Linked DNA regions of Homo sapiens: regions 1, 2 and 4 are each linked to region 3. The links come from fine-mapping of genetic effects on gene expression. A gene starts in region 3. Each other region holds a variant in brackets. All regions are shown on one strand. Distances are between the middles of the regions.

What was found. PIP is the estimated chance that this variant, and not a neighbour inherited with it, causes the effect.
Region 1: its variant is fine-mapped to the expression of TONSL in unexposed skin (GTEx, PIP above 0.99).
Region 2: its variant is fine-mapped to the expression of TONSL in whole blood (TOPMed, PIP above 0.99).
Region 4: its variant is fine-mapped to the expression of TONSL in unexposed skin (GTEx, PIP 0.91).

What each region holds. Positions count from the first base shown.
Region 1 is chr8:143,677,062-143,679,799 of GRCh38, reverse strand. No RefSeq gene overlaps it. Among named protein-coding and RNA genes, the nearest start is that of ZNF707, 6.0 kb to the left of the region's middle. The variant G/A (reference allele first, on the strand shown) is at 1,517.
Region 2 is chr8:144,422,120-144,424,822 of GRCh38, reverse strand. VPS28 (VPS28 subunit of ESCRT-I) reads left to right here. Exons shown (of 10, transcript NM_016208.4): 7 at 4-105; 8 at 555-608; 9 at 691-782; 10 at 901-1,206. The coding sequence ends at 1,018. Among named protein-coding and RNA genes, the nearest start is that of VPS28, 5.1 kb to the left of the region's middle. RefSeq lists enhancers at 1,272-2,041, 2,042-2,703. The variant T/C (reference allele first, on the strand shown) is at 1,453.
Region 3 is chr8:144,442,772-144,445,509 of GRCh38, reverse strand. It overlaps TONSL (tonsoku like, DNA repair protein), which reads left to right and starts at 1,070. Exons shown (of 26, transcript NM_013432.5): 1 at 1,070-1,120; 2 at 1,235-1,330; 3 at 1,486-1,628; 4 at 2,189-2,372; 5 at 2,704-2,738. The coding sequence starts at 1,096. RefSeq lists silencers at 475-614, 655-1,424 and an enhancer at 1,670-2,178.
Region 4 is chr8:144,415,037-144,417,536 of GRCh38, reverse strand. It overlaps SLC39A4 (solute carrier family 39 member 4), which reads left to right and starts at 693. Exons shown (of 12, transcript NM_130849.4): 1 at 693-939; 2 at 1,446-1,727; 3 at 2,118-2,310; 4 at 2,427-2,500. The coding sequence starts at 748. It overlaps LOC124902041 (a long non-coding RNA gene), which reads right to left. Exons shown (of 2, transcript XR_007061145.1): 2 at 1-2,500. The variant A/C (reference allele first, on the strand shown) is at 1,357.

The DNA of each region.
Region 1 (2,738 bases), 770 kb after region 3:
TTTTTTTTTTTTGAGACGGAGTCTTGCTCTGTCGCCCAGGCTGGAGTGCAGGGGCGCGATCTCGGCTCACTGCAAGCTCCGCCTCCCGGGTTCACGCCATTCTCCTGCCTCAGCCTCCTGAGTACCTGGGACTACAGGCGCCCGCCACCATGCCCAGCTAATTTTTTTTTTTTGTATTTTTAGTAGAGACGGGGTTTCACCGCGTTAGCCAGGATGGTCTCGATCTCCTGACCTCATGATCCGCCTGCCTCAGCCTCCCAAAAAGCTGGGATTACAGGCGTGAGCCACCGCGCTCGGCTGTGCTGAAGCATTCTGGTGAACTAGAGTAGTGATGAAACCTTTTACCATTTGAAGGAGTACAGGTAGTAAACAACGGATCAGTAAGCAGGTTCTTATTACTACTGTAATTTTTATTATAAGAGTTTTAAATCCTCTTAGCGCTGGGAACCATTTTCAAACATGGCCTCAGGATCAAATCCGTGCCACGCTTGTACAGGCACATGTGCCAGTTTCGTCATGTCTTTAACTGTATCTTCAACTACTTGCCCCGATCATGTATGTGCAGGCAGCAATTGGTAAGGTTCAATTTCCCACAGACTTCTCCTTCAGCTGCTAGCAAGTAGTCGAGAGTCAATTTATTTTGATAGATAGCATTTCTCATCTGAGTTTCTTGCCGGGCCAGAATAGTCAAGGCTCTGCCGGTCCTATTAGTGATTATTTCTAAGACAGCTTGTAACCGTATGATTTGGTTGAGCATGTAGATGGGGGTCCGGTATCCCCACAAGCCATCTTGTGCCCAAGTAGCAGGCCTATAATATTCCATCATTCTCTCAGGGGGCCATTTATTATCTTTCTTATTTTTTTATAGCTATGCTTCTCTTTTCGCGGGAAACATAGGGAAGCCCAGGAGTTCACCTGTCTTTATAGGCAGTAGGAAGAAAGATGGTTTAATAGTGCCAATCACACAACTGCCTGCCCACTGGTCGGGTAATTTGGTGTAAGGCCTATGCCCACACATTCAGTATAATCCAGTGGGGGCTGTCCAGTCTCGGTGGGACTCCGGATGGGTCCACACGGTTTGCAACTTTGGGAATTTACTAAATGGATTTTTCTTAGTATGGTTTGAACTCCACTAGGTGGCTGTTTTTGTAGTACCATTATACAGTTTTTGCCTAAGGCAGCTGAGTCGTCCTACAGGAAGGGTGAAGTCCTTCCTTACTCTTTTTTTTTTTTTTTTTTTTTTGAGACGGAGTCTTGCTCTGTCACCCAGGCTGGAGTGCAGTGGCGTGATCTCAGCTCACTACAAGCTCTGCCTCCCGGGTTCACGCCATTCTCCTGCCTCAGCCTCCCGAGCAGCTGGGACTACAGGCGCCCGCCACCACGCCTGGCTAATTTTTTATATTTTTAGTAGAGACGGGGTTTCACCGTGTTAGCCAGGATGGTCTCCATCTCCTGACCTTGTGATCCGCCCGCCTCGGCCTCCCAAAGTGCTGGGATTACAGGCGTGAGCCACCGC[G/A]CCCGGCCCCTTACTCTTGCTATACAGTATTGTCTAGTGATTGAGGCTTTTAGGACCCGGAAGTTATCAGGGTGATTTTTCTGAGCCAGGAATTCGTCAGGAACTGGGTCTGTAGGTACTAATTCTTGGGCTTCCCGTGGCCATTGGTCTTTTATTATAGTTCCTCCACACACATAGCATGAAGTGACATTGAGAGACTGGGCTACATGGTCAGCTAATTGCAAACAAATTTCTTATTTTTCCTGGAATTTCTGGTGCTGGCACATTCAGTTCATCATAGAAGGTTTGAAATACTGGCTCAGGAGAGCGTTTATAAACTTCTCCTCAAACCACAATATTTACTTGAAGATCCAGTCCAGCCCCATGAATTTCTAGGGTTATGGCCGGGCACGGTAGCTCACGCCTGTAATCCCAGCACTTTGGGAGGCAGAGGCGGGCGGATCACGAGGTCAGGAGATCGAGACCATCCTGGCTAACACGGTGAAACCCCATCTCTACTAAAAATACAAAAAATTAGCCGGGTGTGGTGGCGGGCACCTGTAGTCCCAGCTACTCAGGAGGCTGAGGCAGGAGAATGGCGTGAACCCGGGAGGCAGAGCTCGCAGTGAGCCGAGATCGCTCCACTGCACTCCAGCCTGGGTGACAGACCGAGACTCCATCTCAAAAAAAAAAAAAAATTCTAGGGTTACACATTTCCTTTTTTTCCAGCGAGGATTAAGGGGGTTGGTTATTACTAGTTCTAAGGGGTTACACTGACCACTGGTATAGGAAGGGCCACTTTTCCTTTTCTGAAGGTGGACAGAATTTTTTTCATTTTTTATCCAAGTAGCCTAAATGACACAAGACCAGTAACTACATTCATTTCCACACAGTCCTAACTCATGATAAATGTACTTATTTTCTGCCATACAGCCTCTTTCCTAATGAAGAGAACCACATCCTATTCCTAACTTATTAGTATTAATGACAGCACAGGCATCACACTTCAAGGTGACTTGTTTGGGCACCTCTTTTTGTTTGTTTTTTTTGGCTAACACTTTACTCATATTGTTTATGAGCCCCCACCAGTCTTTAATTCTTAATCTTATTTGAAAAACTGTGGTCATGGGAGGCTCAGATGGGTCATAACACACATCAGGTTGGTCATTTCCTGGGCACATACCTTGTATAGAATAACATTATACAAACAAGTTCTTTTTAGAGTTCCAGTACACTTATAATA
Region 2 (2,703 bases), 21 kb after region 3:
CAGCTGGACTGCCCGCTGGCCATGGAGCGGATCAAGGAGGACCGGCCCATCACCATCAAGGACGACAAGGGCAACCTCAACCGCTGCATCGCAGACGTGGTCTCGGTGCGCCCCAGCCCCCAGGGCACGTGGTTAGGAGAGCCGAGGCTGCCTGCTGCAGCTGGGCACGAGCGTAGGGTCCTGGGCCTCCAGAGCTGAGCAGCACTCTGACTTGCTGGGCAGAAGGGAACCCCTTTAACTAGGAATGAGGGGTGGGCAGCATGCGGGGACGCCCCCAGGCCACCTGGACTCCTGTCGGGGGGATGAGCACAGGGTGCGTTCTGGCGGGGTCCTGGCCTCGGGAGAGAGTGTGGGTGTGGGCCCACCCTTCAGTTCCCACACAGCTGTCTGGGCAGCCAGGACCTCGTTCACCCAGGAGGCCTGCAGGGTTTGGGAACAGAGTACAGTGAGGAGGCCCAAGTGACAGCTGTGGCTGAGGAGGGGTTGGGGCCCGTGAGCCGTGGGGCCTCCCGCACCCGTGGACACGCGAGCCTCATGTGCACACCTGCCCCCAGCTCTTCATCACGGTCATGGACAAGCTGCGTCTGGAGATCCGCGCCATGGATGAGGTGCGGGTATTGGGCTGGCAGGGGGCCTAGGCAGGAGGGGATGGAGCCGGCGTCGGGGTCCCAGCCGCTGTGTGTGTCTCAGATCCAGCCCGACCTGCGAGAGCTGATGGAGACCATGCACCGCATGAGCCACCTCCCACCCGACTTTGAGGGCCGCCAGACGGTCAGCCAGTGGTGGGTGTCCCTCCCAGCCAGGCAGAGCCCCGCAGTGCCCGAGACCCTCCCAGCCAGGCGGAGCCCCGCAGTGCCCCTGAGGCCCTCAGCCCCCACATGCCCTGTGCTGCACTCCCAGGCTGCAGACCCTGAGCGGCATGTCGGCGTCAGATGAGCTGGACGACTCACAGGTGCGTCAGATGCTGTTCGACCTGGAGTCAGCCTACAACGCCTTCAACCGCTTCCTGCATGCCTGAGCCCGGGGCACTAGCCCTTGCACAGAAGGGCAGAGTCTGAGGCGATGGCTCCTGGTCCCCTGTCCGCCACACAGGCCGTGGTCATCCACACAACTCACTGTCTGCAGCTGCCTGTCTGGTGTCTGTCTTTGGTGTCAGAACTTTGGGGGCCGGGCCCCTCCCCACAATAAAGATGCTCTCCGACCTTCCTGCTTGGGTGGCTCCCCCAGGCCTGCCCTGTGTATTCTCTCCACCCTCCTGGGACTCTCAGCATAGAGCCCCTCTCGCCTACCCTCCCCCGACCTGTGTGGTGGCCCGGCCCTGGCTCTGTCCCTGCCACTGCATTCCTCATGGCCTGCATCACTCAGTGACGGCTGCTTCCCTGGTGGGCTCTGCCTGGGCACATAATAGGAGGCAGGGGCGTTTCCATAGCCCCGAGGCCTGGAGAACAGGTC[T/C]ACCACCTGGGCCAGGCGTGGCTTGACTCTGGCCACAGGGGAGGCTGCCTGCCACCCCTCCCCACGCCTCACTGAAGCCCAGGGCAGCACCAGGTCTTCTGAGTGCAGTCAGGTCCCAGCACACCAGGCCAGGCTGGGCTCAGAGGCGGGGTGCACTTCATGCTGTCAGCTGCTCCACACCCACCTCTCCACTCGGATGACTGCACCCTGGCCCAGGACTCCTGACTTATCTGCAGCTCCAGCCAATTACTCATTGGGTGGGAGTTTGTCATGCCCACCACCAGGGCCTCTCCCCAAGCCCCTGGGCAAAGCCCAAGAGTCAAGGCTGGGCCTGGTGGGGAGGCAGCGGGTGGTGGACGCCGTCCATTCCACAGCGTGTGCTGCACACCTGCTGCTGCCCCCAGGGAAAAGCAGCAGACCACACACCACACCTCTGGGTTCCAAGAGCCGCGTGCTTCACATCTTAGCAACTATGCCCTCAGGATAAGGGACGTGCCAGGGTGTCATTGTAGAATTTTTCTCTCTTAGCGACTGAGAATGCCAGAACCTCTTGACATCTGTGGCATCTAGAGCCGGTGGAATGAGGTGTGTAGAGAAAGGCAGATAGTGAAAATCAAGTCGCTTGGATTTCCGTGGGGGCTTGGGACATCATGGAGGCAGGTGGGCTCTGTGCACAGGCTGAGTGGGGACTGCCTCTCAGACGGCCAAGGGGGGCCGTCAAGCAGGATGACGATGTCAGTGGCTGGAGAGGGAGGCTGAGTCCCGCCAAGAAGCCGGAGGACTGGCCAGGGGCACTGCCATGGGAAGTGGGAAGAGACTGACCAAGGAGCCAGAGAAGAGCCCCCAGGACAGCAGGATCCAGGACACCCAAGGGAGTTGAGGAAGGGCACTGTCGGGTCGGGCCCTGGGGCTCGATGTCCTTGACAGGCACATGTGGGTACGGGGTGCTTCGAGGGAGGACCAGCACCCAGAAACGTGTGTGTGTCAAGGGGGGCAGGTGGCCAGGAAGGGTCATTTTGATCTTTTTTTTTTTTTTTGAGGAGTCGCTCTCTCTCGCCCAGGGTGAAGTGCAATGGCGCGATCTCGGCTCACTGCGACCTCCACCTCCCGGGTTCAAGTGATTCTCCTGTCTCAGCCTCCTGAGTAGCTGGGACTACAGGGGCACGCCACCATTCCCGGCTAATTTTGTATTTTTAGTAGAGATCGGGTTTCTCCATGTTTGGTCAGGCTGGTCTCCAACTCCCAACCTCA
Region 3 (2,738 bases):
AATTAGCCGGGCATGCTGGCACGCGCCTGTAGTCCCAGCTACTTGGAAGGCTGAGGCAGGAAAATCGCTTGAACTCGGGAGGCGGAGGTTGTGGTGAGCCGAGATCACACCATTGCACGCCAGCCTGGGTGACAGAACGAGACTCCGTCTCACACACACACACACACGAAAGATGGGGCCTCACTATGTTGCCCAGGCTGGTCTCGTACTGCTAGGCTCAAGCGATCCTCCTGACCGGGCCTCCCATAGCGCTCGGATTACAGTGCGGGCCACTGTGCCCGGGCTACTTCTGCAGCTGAAGCACAGGTTCACTGACTCTTCCGAGAATACAGCTGGCATACACATTGCTGAAACAATACTTGTTCACTATGGAAAGCACATTCCCCTCCCAAAACAGTCCTTGGGGCCGAGTCCCCAAATGTGACCCAGCTGCGTTCTGCGGAGGAGGAGCGCGCCTGACACCTTATTACGTCCCCACAGCCAAATGCTCGTGAATTTATCGTCAGTCTATCTGGACACTACGTTCGTTTTTAATAGTTGCGCCTGTGAGCAGGCTGTGTGTGTGAATTTCGGGAGGAATTGGGGCGGCGGCACAGCTCGTCCACCATGAGTAGCGCGGGCGGCACGGGGGCTGCAGCCCAGAAGACCCCACCCAGGGCGCGCTGCGACCCCGGACGGGCTGGCTCCGGGCCCCCGGCCTCCCGCGTCCCCGCCGCCTACGAGGAGGAACGGGGTCCCCACCAGGCACTCCCCGGGCCGGGCAGAGGGCTCCACGCGCGGGCCAACCCGGCGTCCGGGAAGACGGCCCCTAGGGTGGGACGCCCCAGTTGTCGCCGCCACCCCGCCCCAGCTCCTCCCGCACGAGAACTCCGAGGATGCCGCGGGCGGGCCGACCGTACTTCCCGGAATGCCCCGCGCCCGCCGCCGCCGTCGAGGGGCGGGGCCTGCGTGTCGGCGGCGAGGGGCGGGGCCTGCGTGTCGGCGGCGAGGGGCGGGGCCTGCGTGTCGGCGGCGAGGGGCGGGGCCTGCGTGTCGGCGGCGAGGGGCGGGGCCGCGGCGCAGCGCGGGAAGTCCGGATCCCGCGGCGATCCGAGCATGAGCCTGGAGCGCGAGCTTCGCCGTAAGTTCCTCGGGGACCCCTTCCTCCGGGGGCGCGGAGGCTGGGGAGGGCTTGGGACTCGGCCCCGGCCCCGGACCCCGCCGCGGAGGCCCAGCCCTCCTCTTCCTCCCACAGAGCTGAGCAAGGCGAAAGCCAAGGCGCAGAGGGCCGGGCAGCGGCGCGAAGAGGCCGCGCTGTGCCACCAGCTGGGGGAGCTCCTGGCCGGCCATGGTGAGCGCCGGGACCAGGAGGCGGGAGGCAGGGCCGGGGCCCGGGCCCGGGCCGGGATCGGGGGCCGGGGGGCGACGGGCTCTTCCGGCAGACGCCGCCCCAGGGCCGCCCTCGCACCCGCGACGCCTGCCAGGCCGTGCTGTGCCCCCGCCTAGGCCGCTACGCCGAGGCTCTGGAGCAGCACTGGCAGGAGCTGCAGCTTCGGGAGCGCGCTGACGACCCTCTGGGCTGTGCCGTGGCCCACCGCAAGATCGGAGAGCGCCTGGCCGAGATGGAGGACTACCCGGCTGCCTTGCAGGTGCGGGCGCCCTCACTGGCCTCGTCCAGCCCGGTCGGCCTCTGGAGCCCTTTTCTGAGGAGGGAGGCCTGGTCTTCGCCGTCAGGAGCCTCGGGCTGGAGGGGACACCTGACCTGACGCAGCCTTGCCTTCACCGCCCCGGGCCAGTCCTCCGGTGGGGACCCCACAGCCTTTCCTGGGACTGGGGCAGGAGTAGGTTTCCTGGCACCAGAAACCATTACTGAACGTTATTTTAGCTGTGTTTGTGTTGGGGGAGGTCAGGCCCCATCCCAAAAGCTCTCCCTGACCCTGGCTGCTGGAGGCAGGACTGCAACCCCCCCGCCAACTCCCAGCTGCCCCTCCCCACGTGACAGCGTTGGCTGCATACAGCGTGAAGCCACTGTCACCACAGAGAGCCCTTGGCATGCAGAGGAGGGGCACGTGTCTGGCCTTGGCCTGCTCTGTGGGGGTTAGGGGGAGCAGGCTCTTTCCTTAGCAAGAACAGGGTCTCTGGGAATCTGGCGGTGCCGGTTTGCTTGAGGCGGAGTCGGCTCACAGCAGTGACTTCCTTCCACACTCAGCACCAGCACCAGTACCTGGAGCTGGCACATTCCCTGCGCAACCACACGGAGCTGCAGAGGGCCTGGGCCACCATCGGCCGCACCCACCTGGACATCTATGACCACTGCCAGTCGAGGGATGCTTTGCTGCAGGCACAGGCTGCCTTTGAGAAGAGCTTGGCTATTGTGGATGAGGAGCTGGAGGGTGGGCAGACCCCTCCGCGTTTTCTGCCTCCTGAACTTCGGGCCGAAGAGGCTGCAGCCCAGCACCCCCGCAGCCTCCTTGGGCAATCCCGTCTTCTGGAGCCCTCCCTTTGCAAGGCTCTTGTGTGAGGGGTGCATGCCCCGCTCAACCTTTCCCCTGGAGATCGTCAGCTCTTTATCCACTCTGTGCTCCATCTGCCGCAGGACACTTGCACCCACCTCGGGAGGAGGGAGGGGGTAGGAGAGGCGCTGCACAGGCCCCAAATGGGGCCCAAAGCTGGAAACCCCATGTGGGGAGGAAGTGGCTGAGTGTTTGGGGGGGTATCTTCCAGGGACACTGGCCCAGGGAGAGCTGAATGAGATGAGG
Region 4 (2,500 bases), 28 kb after region 3:
GAGGCAGGGACCTGGGAGCTCTCAGGCTCTGGGGGCATCTGTGCACCTCTGCCCTGTGTCCCCCAGCTTGGAGGCAGCCCCCAGATGGACAGCCAGAAGGGGACACCCCAGCCCTGCCCCACAGCTTGGGGGGCAGCAGGCAGAGGACAGAAGCCCACCCAGGCTGGCCTGGCGTGGTGAGCCACGCCGGTAATCCCAGCACTTTGGGAGGCCAAGGCGGGCGAATCACCTGAGGTTGGGAGTTCAAGACCAGCCTGACCAACATGGAGAAACACTGTCTCTACTAAAAATACAAAAGTAACCGGGCGTGGTGGCGCTGCCTGTAATCCCAGCTACTCGGGAGGCTGAGGCAGGAGAAGCACTTGAACCCGGGAGGCGGAGGTTGCCGTGAGCCAAGATCACGCCATTGCACTCCAGCCTGGGCAGCAAGAGCAAAACTCCAACTCGAAAAAAAAAAGACCACCGAGGCTGCCTGTCCAGGGGAAGGGGCCCAGCCCTCGACCCCCACAGGCAGTGGCTCCAGGCTGTTGGGGAGGATCTGCCACTGGAATGGTTAACCCAGGCATCTCCAGCAGCCAATCACAGAGCTCTGCAGGAATACCTGGGAGAGGTCCTCATGCAGCCCGGGCGGGTCCTAGCCCAGCCCCAGTCTGGCCCTGGACAACCCCAGCAAAGCCGCCCTCAGCCAGCCCAGAAGCACTGGGCCTTGGCCACAGCAACACCCACTGAGCACGCTGGGAGCTGAGTATGGCGTCCCTGGTCTCGCTGGAGCTGGGGCTGCTTCTGGCTGTGCTGGTGGTGACGGCGACGGCGTCCCCGCCTGCTGGTCTGCTGAGCCTGCTCACCTCTGGCCAGGGCGCTCTGGATCAAGAGGCTCTGGGCGGCCTGTTAAATACGCTGGCGGACCGTGTGCACTGCGCCAACGGGCCGTGTGGAAAGGTAACAGCCCCACCCGACGGGTCCCCCAGCCCTGGCCTCTTCCCGCCAGCTCCGCCCTGCCAGCCGGCAGCAAAGGGCCCTGGGCAAACTCCAGGAGGCGGAGGAGGCTAGTGGCAGTACCTGGGCACCCTGACCCTCCCCACAGGCCAGAGCCCACCCTCCTGCTCATGAGGGCAGACAGGCCTTTCCAGGGACACAGTCCCTCTTCTCCCCAGGACCCCAGGGCCAACTCCCCCTGCCGGCCCTCTGCCATCAAATTGGCAGTGGCTCCAGGGGAGTCCCCTGGGGATGGGGGACCACTGTTGGGGACCCCTCTGCGTGCACCCCTGTAGTTGGGGAAGCAGGACAGGGGCCTGGGGAGACGGAAGGGCGCCAGGGGTTGAGAGAGGATGGTGGACGTTGTTGGACTTGAAAGGG[A/C]AACAGGCCCTCGGGGAAGCCCCTGGCCAGGCCTGCCTCTCCCCTCCCTGGTGGGCCCAGCGCCCCTGCTCACTTGTCTCTGCCCACAGTGCCTGTCTGTGGAGGACGCCCTGGGCCTGGGCGAGCCTGAGGGGTCAGGGCTGCCCCCGGGCCCGGTCCTGGAGGCCAGGTACGTCGCCCGCCTCAGTGCCGCCGCCGTCCTGTACCTCAGCAACCCCGAGGGCACCTGTGAGGACGCTCGGGCTGGCCTCTGGGCCTCTCATGCAGACCACCTCCTGGCCCTGCTCGAGAGCCCCAAGGCCCTGACCCCGGGCCTGAGCTGGCTGCTGCAGAGGATGCAGGCCCGGGCTGCCGGCCAGACCCCCAAGATGGTGAGGGAGAGTCCAGGCAGACCAGGGGAGTGGGTGAGGAGGGTCCCACGGCCCATGGGACCCGGCCTGGCTGCAAAGCCTTCGGGGAGCCTGGGGGCCTGGGGAGACGCCCAGGAGTCGGCCTGCGGCTGGGGATTCACAACGTGGGGCTCACTACTGGGCAGTTGGGAGCCTGTAGGAGCCCCGGGAGGGACCTCATGAGGGAGGAACCCAGAGGCCTGAGTGGGAGCCTGAAGCAGCTGGGCCCGGCAGGGAGGGCTGTGGCTCCAGGGAGGGGCGGGGCTGGTGGGGGCAGATCCTGTAGTTGGGGTGGGAGATGCATCCAGGGGCAGCGGGGTGGATGGCAGAAGGTCACACCAAAGGCTGAGGCGGAGGCCCCCTCTTCCCCAGGCCTGCGTAGATATCCCTCAGCTGCTGGAGGAGGCGGTGGGGGCGGGGGCTCCGGGCAGTGCTGGCGGCGTCCTGGCTGCCCTGCTGGACCATGTCAGGAGCGGGTCTTGCTTCCACGCCTTGCCGAGCCCTCAGTACTTCGTGGACTTTGTGTTCCAGCAGCACAGCAGCGAGGTCCCTATGACGCTGGCCGGTGAGGCCTGGGCTGGGCTGTGGAGGGGGGCACCCCCGAGTCCCCAGCCTCCACGTCCCTGGGGGGCAGGGCCGGAGCCCACACAGACTCGCGGTGCCAACTCTTCTCCCTGCCAGAGCTGTCAGCCTTGATGCAGCGCCTGGGGGTGGGCAGGGAGGCCCACAGTGACCACAGTCATCGGCACAGGGGA